Linked DNA regions of Homo sapiens: region 2 is linked to region 1. A link means that fine-mapping ties the variant in region 1 to the expression of a gene that starts in the linked region. Tissue or cell type: whole blood. Region 1 holds a variant in brackets; the other region holds the start of a gene. Each region is shown on its reference strand, or each on the opposite one.

Evidence for each region.
Region 2: it holds the start of FKBP8, and the variant in region 1 is fine-mapped to the expression of FKBP8 in whole blood (TOPMed, PIP 0.99).

The regions. Positions count from the first base shown.
Region 1 is chr17:35,617,098-35,622,475 of GRCh38, forward strand. The region is part of intron 5 of AP2B1 (adaptor related protein complex 2 subunit beta 1); the gene reads left to right. Among named protein-coding and RNA genes, the nearest start is that of AP2B1, 32 kb to the left of the region's middle. The variant A/G (reference allele first, on the strand shown) is at 1,991.
Region 2 is chr19:18,541,165-18,546,542 of GRCh38, forward strand. FKBP8 (FKBP prolyl isomerase 8) reads right to left here and starts at 2,409. Exons shown (of 9, transcript NM_012181.5): 1 at 2,322-2,409; 2 at 515-831. The coding sequence starts at 806. RefSeq lists an enhancer at 162-662 and a silencer at 2,225-2,654.

The DNA of each region.
Region 1 (5,378 bases):
TAGGCTGGAGTGCAGTGGCACAATCTCGGCTTACTGCAACCTCCATCTCCTGGGCTCAAATAATTCTCCCACTTCAGCCTTCTGAGTAGCTGAGAGTACAGGCACATGCCATCATGCCTGGCTAAGTTTTGTATTTTTAGTAGAGACAGGGTTTCACCATGTTGGCCATGCTGGTCTTGAATTCCTGACCTCAAGTGATCCGCCTGCCTCAGCCTCCCAAAGTGCTGGGATTACAGGCGTGAGTGAGCCACCATGCCCAGCAGAAACATATATTCTATATTGTACAGTGATTGTAGTGCCGGATATTAATAATTTTAGAAGGGTTAGTATTTCAGTGGCAAAATTTACTTTTTAATTTTATAAGATTAAAATTTTAAGGTTAAGATTAAAACTTTTAGGATGAAGAATTTTAAAGATTAAATTTTTTAAAGCTCTGAGGGCAACTTACCCACAAATGAAGCTAAATCTAAGAGTACTACTTACTACTTTTACAAGGTAATTATTCAAGGGTGTACGTTTAAAGTAGTTCTCAACAGCAACTTCCTGAAAGCTGGATCTGTTGTGTGTTGTTTTGGTGGTTTGCCAGTATATCAAGGCTCATTTGTCACTTTAAGATGACCTCAAGGCTGTAATTTGGCTGGGGAATACTTTACTCTTAGAAATGGGGAGATCATAAGTGGTGTGATAATAAGTGTTTTATTTTGTTCAAGTTGCAGCTTGCTTTAATGAATTTTAGGGGCCATGGTCCAAATAACTGTGATGGTTATAGGCATGCCTTTTATTTGTTTATCGATATTTATTTGTAGTGTTTTGGCTTTGAGAGTACTTGAATTTTGTTAAATCATATCTTAAACCACTTAAGTAATGAATTTTATTTTTTGTAAACCTTGTTACTATGTAATCAGACTTTCTTTTCATAATGAGATGTGTTGGCTCACTAGGTAGTTTTACCTCTCATTCTAAGGAAGAAGATGGGGAAAAAATGGAATATTCTAGATTGTAATGTAGCAGGCATATTAACAGTTGGCATTCTAGACAGTGTTTTGGATTAAAGTATAAGCCCTAAGTTTTACTTGTTTGACTGGTACTGCAGTCATTGTCTCCTTAAGGAGATAATAATGACTGAAACTCTCAGAACAAATATGTTGTCCTATGCCTCACATGTCATTTGAGGTCATTCTGTAAAGGAGATAGCAATATTCTAACACTGCTAATTTAGAAGAGAACAAAAATATGTAAACCACCTGTGTATTTCCTCATAATAGTTTTGGTCAGTTACTCTACTTCTTTCACTTTATTCAAGTCTTCAGGGATACCAGCCAAAATAATTGTAAATTGAGCAGAAAAACTGAAGCATAAATCTGTTCATAGTGTGTGACCTTGAAGGTCATTGCTGGAAATCAAAGTCCTGTAAATAGTAATTTACTTAACAGGAAGAAGTCACTGAACTGGAAAGTGGTAAGTTTCTAAGGTTCCAAGGCCACGAAAATGAGTGAAATTAGAGTGCAAGGTGAAAATCATTTTAAGGGACAGGGAAATGGGTGAGAGATTCCTCATAAGTGAGCTTATGTGTGTGATATTCCACTCCCAGTTTATATCTAGATTTCCTTTGAGAGTCCTTTTTTTTACAGGGTCATTTTTATTCTAACCATACCTACTGTACCAGCTCACTCCTTTTTTAACAAAATGAGGTCAAATTTATTATCCTCAACTGCTGCATATAAGACAGGTATAGATCATAAATCATATTTTATAGCTAGGTAGTAAATCTTTCCCTCCCTAAGTACTGTAGGATATGATTATCTCTGAAATGTATAAAGTAGAATACATTTTTCTCCTTGTATATAAATCTACATGTCACCTTTGCTGGAAATAATGTTTGGATTATATTATCCTCCCCTACTCTGAATCTTCTTTCCCTTCCCTTGGTTGAAGTTCACAAGTCTTGGAAGCTCTATAAATGCTGGAGACCAAGTATTAGTACTCAGAC[A/G]CTGGAATCAGATGCAGACCTTGAGTTCAGATTCAAGCAGGAATCCCTTTCTGGCTGTGTTGACCCTAAGCAAGTCACTGAACTTCTCTAAGTCAGTTTTGTTATCTGTAATAGGTGGCTTTTAGTAGCAGCTACTTCAGAGTTGTTATGAGGATTAATAGCACAAAGTAAATATTCAATACATTTTAGCTATTCCAGTCTTTTATCTCTGTAAAACTCATTCTATTAGTATAATGTAAGTAAAAATACAAATTGCTTATCATTAAAAATTCAGGCTGGGTATGGTGGTTCACACCTGTAATATTAGCACTTTGGGAGGCCAAGGCAGGAAGATTGCCTGAGGCCAGGAGTTTGAGAGAAGCCTGGGCAACATAGTGAGACCCTGTTTCTATTTAAAAAAAAAACAAAAACAACCAGCAGATTCCACAGGTCCATAAGGAAATATCATATTGAAGAGAAGTCTGTAATTAAGGCGGAGAAAGATTTGTCTAGGATTGAGTATGATTTTACACATCTACATGTGCTGCTTTTATATATATGTTTGTGTTTAATATCTATCTCTGTAAAGTATACATAATTGGGTTAGCTCTTTGAGGGGATGTGAGGGGTGGGGAATGTTTAGTTTCAGTCTCCCCAAGAATAGAATTTACCATAATTGGGAGGCAAGATGAATAAAGGATTTTTTTTAGTTTTTTATTTTACTTTTATCTTTTTGGAGACAGAGTCTCATTCTGTTGTCCAGGCTAGAGTGCAATGGTGTGATCTTGGCTTACCGCAACCTCTGCCTCGCATGTTCAAGTGATTCTCGTGCCTCAGCCTCCCGAGTAGCTGGGATTACAGGTATGCACCACCATGCCTGGCTAATTTTTGGTATTTTAATTAGAGACAGGGTTTCACCATGTTGGCCAGGCTGATCCCAAGCTTCTGGCCTCAAGTGATCCACCTGTTTCAGCCTCCCAAAGTGCTGGGATTACAGGCGTGAACCACCGTGCTCGGCCAAGGATTTATTTTTTTAATGCTGCAAATGTGTCCCTTTGTCACCTGGATGCCAACTTTTTATAAATCAACTTGTGCTGAGGAAGCTCTCTTAAGAAACCCTATTTGTAGGCCAGGTACCTTATGGTGGCTCACACCTGTAATCTCAGCACCTTAGGAGGCCAAGATGGGAGGACTGCATGAGGCCAGGAATTTGAGACCAGCCTGGACAACATAGTGAGACCCCTGTCTCTACCAAAAAAAAAAATTAGCCAGGCATGGTGGCATGCACTGTGGTCCCATCTGCTAGTTCAAGATTACAGTGAACTATATGATTATGCCACTACACTGTAGCCTGGGTGACGGGCAAGACCCTGTCTCTTAAAACCAACCAACCAAACAAACCCCAAGGAAATCCTATTTAAAAATTCATTTTTAAAGCGAAACTTTCTCTAGAAACCCCCCTTTTTGGCTGGGTATGGTGACTCACATCTGTAATCCCAGCACTTTGGGAGGCCAAACTGGGAGGATTATTTGAGACCAGGAGTTCAAGACCAGCCTGGGCAATATAGCCAGCCCCATCTCTAAAAATTTAATTAAGAAACTTGACTGGGTGTGGTGGTACAAGCCTGTAGTCCTGGCTACTCAGGAGGCTGAGGTGGAAGGATCACTTGAGTCCAGGAGTTTGAGATTACAGTGAGCTGTGATCAGTGCGACTGCATTCCAGCCTGGGCAACAGAGTGAGACCCTGCCTCTTTAAAAAAATACAATTTTTTTCTTGGAAACTCTAATTTTTCTGAAATGGTAGCTAAAGGCCATTGTTCTCTTTCTGTCAGTATTTCCTAAGAGAAATGCCAATTTTTTGACAGGAGAAGTGTTACACATAGTTGTGTTAACAGTTCTAAATCAAAGTAATAGTTCAAATGAAAGAAGCACACCTTTGTCTTAGTATACAGGTGAGTCAAGGCAGTTATTGTAAGGGTTGGATTTGTTCTTTTGTGATATTATTGTCTAGAGAAGACTCTGGAGGAAGAGGAAGTAAATCTTGAGTTTCAATCTATTATTTTAAAAGTTTATTTTAAAAACGGAACAATATATATTCATAGTACAGAATTCCAAAGAAACAGTATAAACATTGACAAGTGAGTTGTCATGTACTCTCTAGCCACCCAGTTGCTGTCTCAAAGTTAGTCTTTTTCTTTAAGATACTTTAGATTCAGTGCGACTGATTTATTTTAAGTTTTCATTGAAGAGTGAGAGAAACTCGGCTTACGGACCAGGAAAACTGAGAGTGCTGCCTGGTGAGCCTGCCTCAGTATGTTGCTAAAAATGTAACAGTCTGACTGTGGAGATTAGGAGATGAAAGTGTAGAGATAGGATGGAAGGAACTTCAAGAAATTTTAGAGAAACATTAGAGTTTTGGTATAGAGGGGTAGGATAGCATCTCCTCTGGACGGTCACCATTTGGCAGTGATCTCTCTTATTTGTGCAGGCTTTGCTAAACAATCATCTAATCTGATCTTTCTGGATCCTTAAGTTAGACTTACTTTTCTCCATTTCATTTCTTGTTTTAATGTCATGATAAGTGGCAATTGCCTATTTAAACATCAGACCATACACTTCATTAGGTGCATTATACACTTGGTTTAATTTCCAGTTGCCTATAATAACAGAGGATTTCTAATTGCTCATTCTGTTTAGCATTCTTCTGGTCTTTTTCTCCCCATTGCTGTTTTTAATTCTCCCCCTTCTCTCGTTTTCTTTGTCTATATTTCCTATTACTAGACCTTATATTTAATCTTTTTGTTTTTTTAAACATGAAAAGGGTTTCACTGACAGAAGTGGTAATTTATTTCAGACAACTGGTAACCAAGACTGGGCATGTGTTGGCAACAATAAATCAAAACAGGCATTTGGCCTTCTGATATGATATTTTGATTCTTTAGACTATAATAAGGTCAACTAAGTATGTTGTGCAAGGGAAATAAAATATCTTGCATGTGAAGCACATGGAAGGGATTATTATTTCTCTCTTTATGGCTTTTCTCATGCTTGATGATAGAGTTAGCAAACAAAAATTAAGTCAGAAAAGAGCCTCATACATGTTACCATCCAGTAGGTGGGCTAGATAAGTTTTCCTGATTTGTCTTAACAAGTATAAAATAGTATATCTGTAACCATATTTACCAAGTGAGTCTCTGATTTTTCATCTTAGCATCTTTGTTCTGATCACCAAAGTATAGCTTGAGATGATTGCATTTGTGGCATCATTATCCTTTACATAATAATGGACATTTTTGTAAGTATATTATTTGTTAAATAAATCACATTCTCTAGACATTTATCTTCTAGATAAAATCATATGCTGGGATAATCTGAAGATTACACAGATGATGTGAATACTAAAATCAAT
Region 2 (5,378 bases), not on the chromosome of region 1:
CTTCTTGTAGGATTGCTCTGAGCATTTACAATACTATCACTACTGTGAACCAACCAGAAGGCTGAACAAAATAACATTCCTCTGATCCACTTGACCCCAGAACACATTTTTTGTTTTGGAAGTTGGGGTCTCGCTGTGTTGCCCAGGCTGGCGTGCACTCAGGACACATTTTTCAGAGCCCAAGCATGTGTCAGACAAATGCCAAAAAAAGATGCATTGATGGGGTTAGGAGCTGCCAGCGCCTGGCGTGCTGGCTGTGTGGCTCTGGGCAGGTGACTCAGCCTCTCTGAGCCACTGTTAGCAGATCTGGGAAACGGGGACACAGCACATTGTGCATGTGTGTGAGTCAGTGGATAGAGTACATCAATGTGAAGCATCTCCAGTAGTTGCCTCTGGCTGGTGATCACGGTGGTGACCACGTGACTTCCAACCCTCACAGCACAGATGGGGAAATGAGGCTCAGGGGACGAGAGGGCCAGGGCCAAGGGCACCCTGATCCACCTTTGCTCCTTACCCAGAATGTCCAGCCACTCTTCTGGGGCCGGGGCTGGGGCGGGCTCGGGCTCCATGGCAGCAAGGAACTCTCGGGCCAGGGCCCCAGGCTGCTCAGCCTCCTCCGCCGGGGGTTGTCCCATGTCCTCCAGCGGTGGCAGCTCACTCAGGTCATCCTCTTCCTCCTCTTCCTCCTCCTCTTCCTCCTCACCCTCTGCATCCTCAACCCCATCCAGTACCTCGAAGTCCTCGAGCGGTGGGACCCCGGCGGGCAGTGGGGCAGAGGGCTCAGAGGGTTCAGCACACGATGCCATGCTGCTGGGGGGACAGGAATTGGCCCTGGAAGTGGGGGGCAGAGATGTGGGTCAGAATCCTACACAGCCCCTCAAAGTCTCCACTGTACTGATTCCCCACACTGCCGATCACTTTCTGTGTAACTCAAGGGCTCCAGGCCTCAGTTTCCTCATCTATACAGTGGGTGTAACAACAACCCCAGCTTGTTGGGAGAAATTAACCCATGCATCAAGCCCTTGGCATCAGGCTCAAATAGTGTTAGCCATTATTAGAGCTAATTATTATTTAATGTTTACAAATACTCCAGGAAGTAGGGAAGATTCCCCTCAACATTTTGCAGAACAGGAAACAGGCCAGAGGGGCAAAGGCATTTGCCCAAGGTCACAGAGAAAGCCAAAGGCCAAAGGAGGATTTGAACCTGGGGCTTCAGGCCCTGTGGCTTTGCCTGATTATAAGCTGAGCGAAGGGTGCTGGGATTTTTGTGGAGAGGACAGCCTCCGAGGCCTTAGGGAAGCCATTTTTAGAGCCTCTAAGGCCACTGGGGGAAATTGAATCTTTTACCAGGGCCTCCCACCTCCAGCCTCTTCTCCAAAGGGGAGACCCTCCCCAAAAGCACCAACTGTAATCACCCAGAAACCCCAAGCGTTTTTTCCTTCCACACTCTGAATCTAACACTATCCCCCACAACCCCAACATCAGGGACCCTGGCCCAAATCCTTCCCCAGGAGACCATCCTCCTCTCATCAGGCCTCGGTCCCACCCCCTCAAAGCAGCCTCCTTTCCAGGAGTGGTCGAGGTCCCACCACATTCTACAGCCTCTTCCTTGCCCCAGACCTCCTGAACCAATAACCAACCCCTCCGTCCCCCAGGCCCCAAGCTCAGAAGAGTGTGGCACAGCCATCAAACCAGCCCGCCGCATCCCCTCCCTAACCCTCACCTGCCTGCTCCTCCCGGGCTCGGAGCCCCACTTTGAGAGACCCTCCCAGCCCCCACCCCCATAATTCCCCGCGCCCGCACAATTCGGCCTCCCCTCCCACCCCCCACCCCAACCACCACCGCCCCCAGCACGGGCCAGCTCCCCCCACAGCCGCTCCGTCTCGCCGTAAACACTCCAGTGTCCCCAGACGCCCCCCCCTTTCCGATCCCATAACACCCCACGCTCTCCTGACGCCCCACAGCCCCGGCCGGGCCCTCAGTCAAGCCGCGACCCAGGCCCCCAACGACCCACGCCTGTCTGACGCCACCAGTCTGGGGCACCCGACCCCCGCACGCCTCGGGCGCCCCTGGCCCTGCACGCCTCCATCGGGACCCCCCCACTGGATCCCCTTTGCCCCCAGTGACCCCCATCCCTGGCCACCCCCGCCCGGCCGCGCCCCCTCGGGCACCCCCGACCCCCGTGCCCCCCCGGCTCGCCACCCCCGCGGCCCCTCGCCCCGCCCATCGGCCGCAGCCCCCGGCGCGCTAGCCCCCGGACCAGCCTAGGCCAGGGCAGCGGCCCGGCCGGCACGGCGCCCCCAGCACCCCAGGACACTTGCCTCTGGCTCCGGGACCCCCACTTGGGGTCCTGCGCCCCCCTCCCCGCCCCCAGCCGCGGCCGCCGCGCCTCGGGAACCAGGTTCGGCCGCTTGGCCCCGCCCCTGCCGTGCCCATTGGCCGCCGCTGCCGCGACTGCCGCACCCGTTGGCTCATGCAGACGTCCGTCCCGGGCGTTGGCACCTCCCCCTTCCTGCTTGGCCCCGCGGGGCGTTCTTAAAGGGACCGAAGCCTCCCGGCTGCTGGGGCTGGGGCGGGGGCTGGGGCGGGGGCTGGGGCGGGGGCTGGGGCGGGGGCGGGGGACCCTGGGCTGGACCCCAACACGGGTCAGTATCGCGCAGCCTGTGCGACTCCTGCCTCTCCTCTGAGCTTCATCCTGACCATCTGCGAAATGGGGATAAACACCCCCATCTATGCACTCTCACCTTGGGGGCTGCTGGGGGCACAGTCCACTCTAAATGTTATTTCCTTAAAGAGTTCAAGCTTGACGGGCAGGGCAGCTCTGGGGTTGCTGAATGACCCATCCTGAAGCCTTAGTTACAGAAGTGAACCTGAGGGCCTGAGGAGGAGTGACGTGCCCAAAGGCATACAGAAACCTCCCTCCCATCCCCCACACAGTTTAATGTCTAGAAGGTTGCCTGGTGCATACTGGAGGCGCTCGATTACTGCTGCGCAGGCGACTGAGCCAGCAGGGCCACTGGGAGGAGTTCCTCCTCTATGCACTGTCTGCTGGAGGGTGATAAGGTCCCCATGGCTCGGGAAGAAGGTGGCATCCTTGATTAGCTAAGTTTTTGTGGATCTTGTTTTGAAACCGGGACACTTCTCCCTCCTTCACTCAGTTTTATTTCCTTCCTAGCAGTTACTCCTTCCAGAATTATCTTGTCATTATTTTGCTTGTGGTTGGAGGGACCATCCCTCACTCTGCTTCATCCTGGCAGAGATTTTTACCTGATTTGTACCCAGCACCTCCTTGAACCATGCCTGGCATCTATAGAAGCTCAATAAATGGGTAGGTGGATGGATGGATGGATGGATGGATGGATGGATGGATGGATGAGTCAGACACCAGCTTTTGGAGGTAGCTATCATGGAGGTGGTAACTGGCTTTTTGGAGATCACTTCTAAGGTTGGAGTTCCCAGGTTACCTCCTACAGGAAGCCCTCCCAACCTCCCCAAGGCAAGACCAGGTGCCCCCTTTAGCTGTCTTGGCACAATGAAGTTGATGAACGTCCACTTCATAACTAGTTTACTTGGGTTTTTTGTTTGTTTGTTTGTTTTTGTTTTTTGAGAAGAAGTTTCACTCTTGTTGCCCAAGCTGGAGTGCAATGGCGCAATCTCAGCTCACCGCAACCGCTGCCTCCCAGGTTCAAGCGATTCTCCTGCCTCAGCCTTCCAAGTAGCTGGGAGTAGAGGCATGCACCACCATGCCTGGCTAACTTTGTATTTTTAGTAGACACGGGATTTCTTCATGTTGGTCAGGCTGGTCTCAAACTCCCGACCTCACGTGATCCGCCCACCTCGATGTACCAAAGATTACAGGCATGAGCCATCGTGCCTGGCCTTTTTTTTTTTTTTCTTTCTCTTTTTTTTTTGAGACAGAGTCTCTCTCTGTCGCCAGGCTGGAGTGCAGTGGCGCGATCTCGGCTCACTGCAACATCCACCTCCTAAGTTCCAACGATTCTCCTGCTTCAGCCTCCTGAGTAGCTGGGACTACAGGCACCCGCCACCATGCCCAGCTAATTTGTATATTTTTAGTAGAGACAGGGTTTCACCATGTTGGCCAGGATGGTCTGGAACTCCTGACCTCATGATCTGCCTGCCTCGGCTTCCCAAACTAGTTTACTTATATCTCTGCCTTTTTTTTTTTGAGATAGGGTCTTACTTTGAAACCCAGGCTGGAGTGCAGTGGCACGATCTCAGATCACTGCAACCATGTCTATCTCCTGGGCTCACGCAATCCTCCTGCCTCAGCCTCCTGAGTAGCTGGGCCCACAGGTGCACCATCATGTCCAGCTAATTTTTTTTTTTTTTTTTGAGACAGAGTCTCGCTGTGTAGCCCAGGCTAGAGTGCAGTGGCGCAATCTCGGCTCACTGCAAGCTCCGCCTCCCAGGTTCACACCATTCTCCTGCCTCAGCCTCCCAAGTAGCTGGGACTACAGGCGCCTGCCACCATGCCCGACTAATTTTTTGTATTTTTAGTAGAGTCAGCGTTTCATCGTGTTAGCCAGGATAGTCTCGATCTCCTGACCTTGTGATCTGCCCACCTCGGCCTCCCAAAGTGCTGAAATTACAGGCGTGAGCCATCGCGCCCGGCCCAATGTTTATATTTTTTGTAGAGATGGGGTTTCCCCATGTTGCCCAGGCTGGTCTCGAACTCCTGGGCTCAAGCAATCCTCCCACTTTGGCCTCCCAAACTGTTGGGATTATAGGCGTGAGCCACTGCTTTGATTTACCTCTGCCTTGCCCTCTACACTGGCAGAGCCCCAAAGTCTGGGAAGGCTTTGTTCTTTCTCATTGTTATAGCTCTGAGGCTTGCACAGTGCCTGCCACAAAAGGTAGTGGTGGGGTCTCACGGAAATCACTGAGGAAGGAAGGGAGGTTAAAGGTGGTAGCATAGCAGAGCTATGTAAGAAATCACCTGGAGGGCTGGGTGCGGTGGCTTATGCCAGTAATCCCAGCACTTTGGGAGGCCGAGGTGGGTGGATCACCTGAGGTCAGGAAATCTAGACCAGCCTGGCCAACATGGTGAAACCCCGTCTCTACTAAAAATACAAAAATTAGCCGGGTATGGTGGTGCATGCCTGTAATCTCAGATACTGGGGTGGCTGAGGCATGAGGACTGCTTGAACCCCAGGGGTGGAAGTTGCAGTGAGCAAGACCCAGTCTCAAAAACAGCCTTTGGGAGGCTGAGGCAGATGGTTCACCTGAAGTCAAGAGTTCGAGACCAGCCTGGCCAACATGGTGAAACCTGTCTCTGCGAAAAATACAGAAATTAGCCGGGTGCGGTGGCACATGCCTGTAATCCCAGCTACTTGGGAGGTTGAGGCAGGAGAATCGCT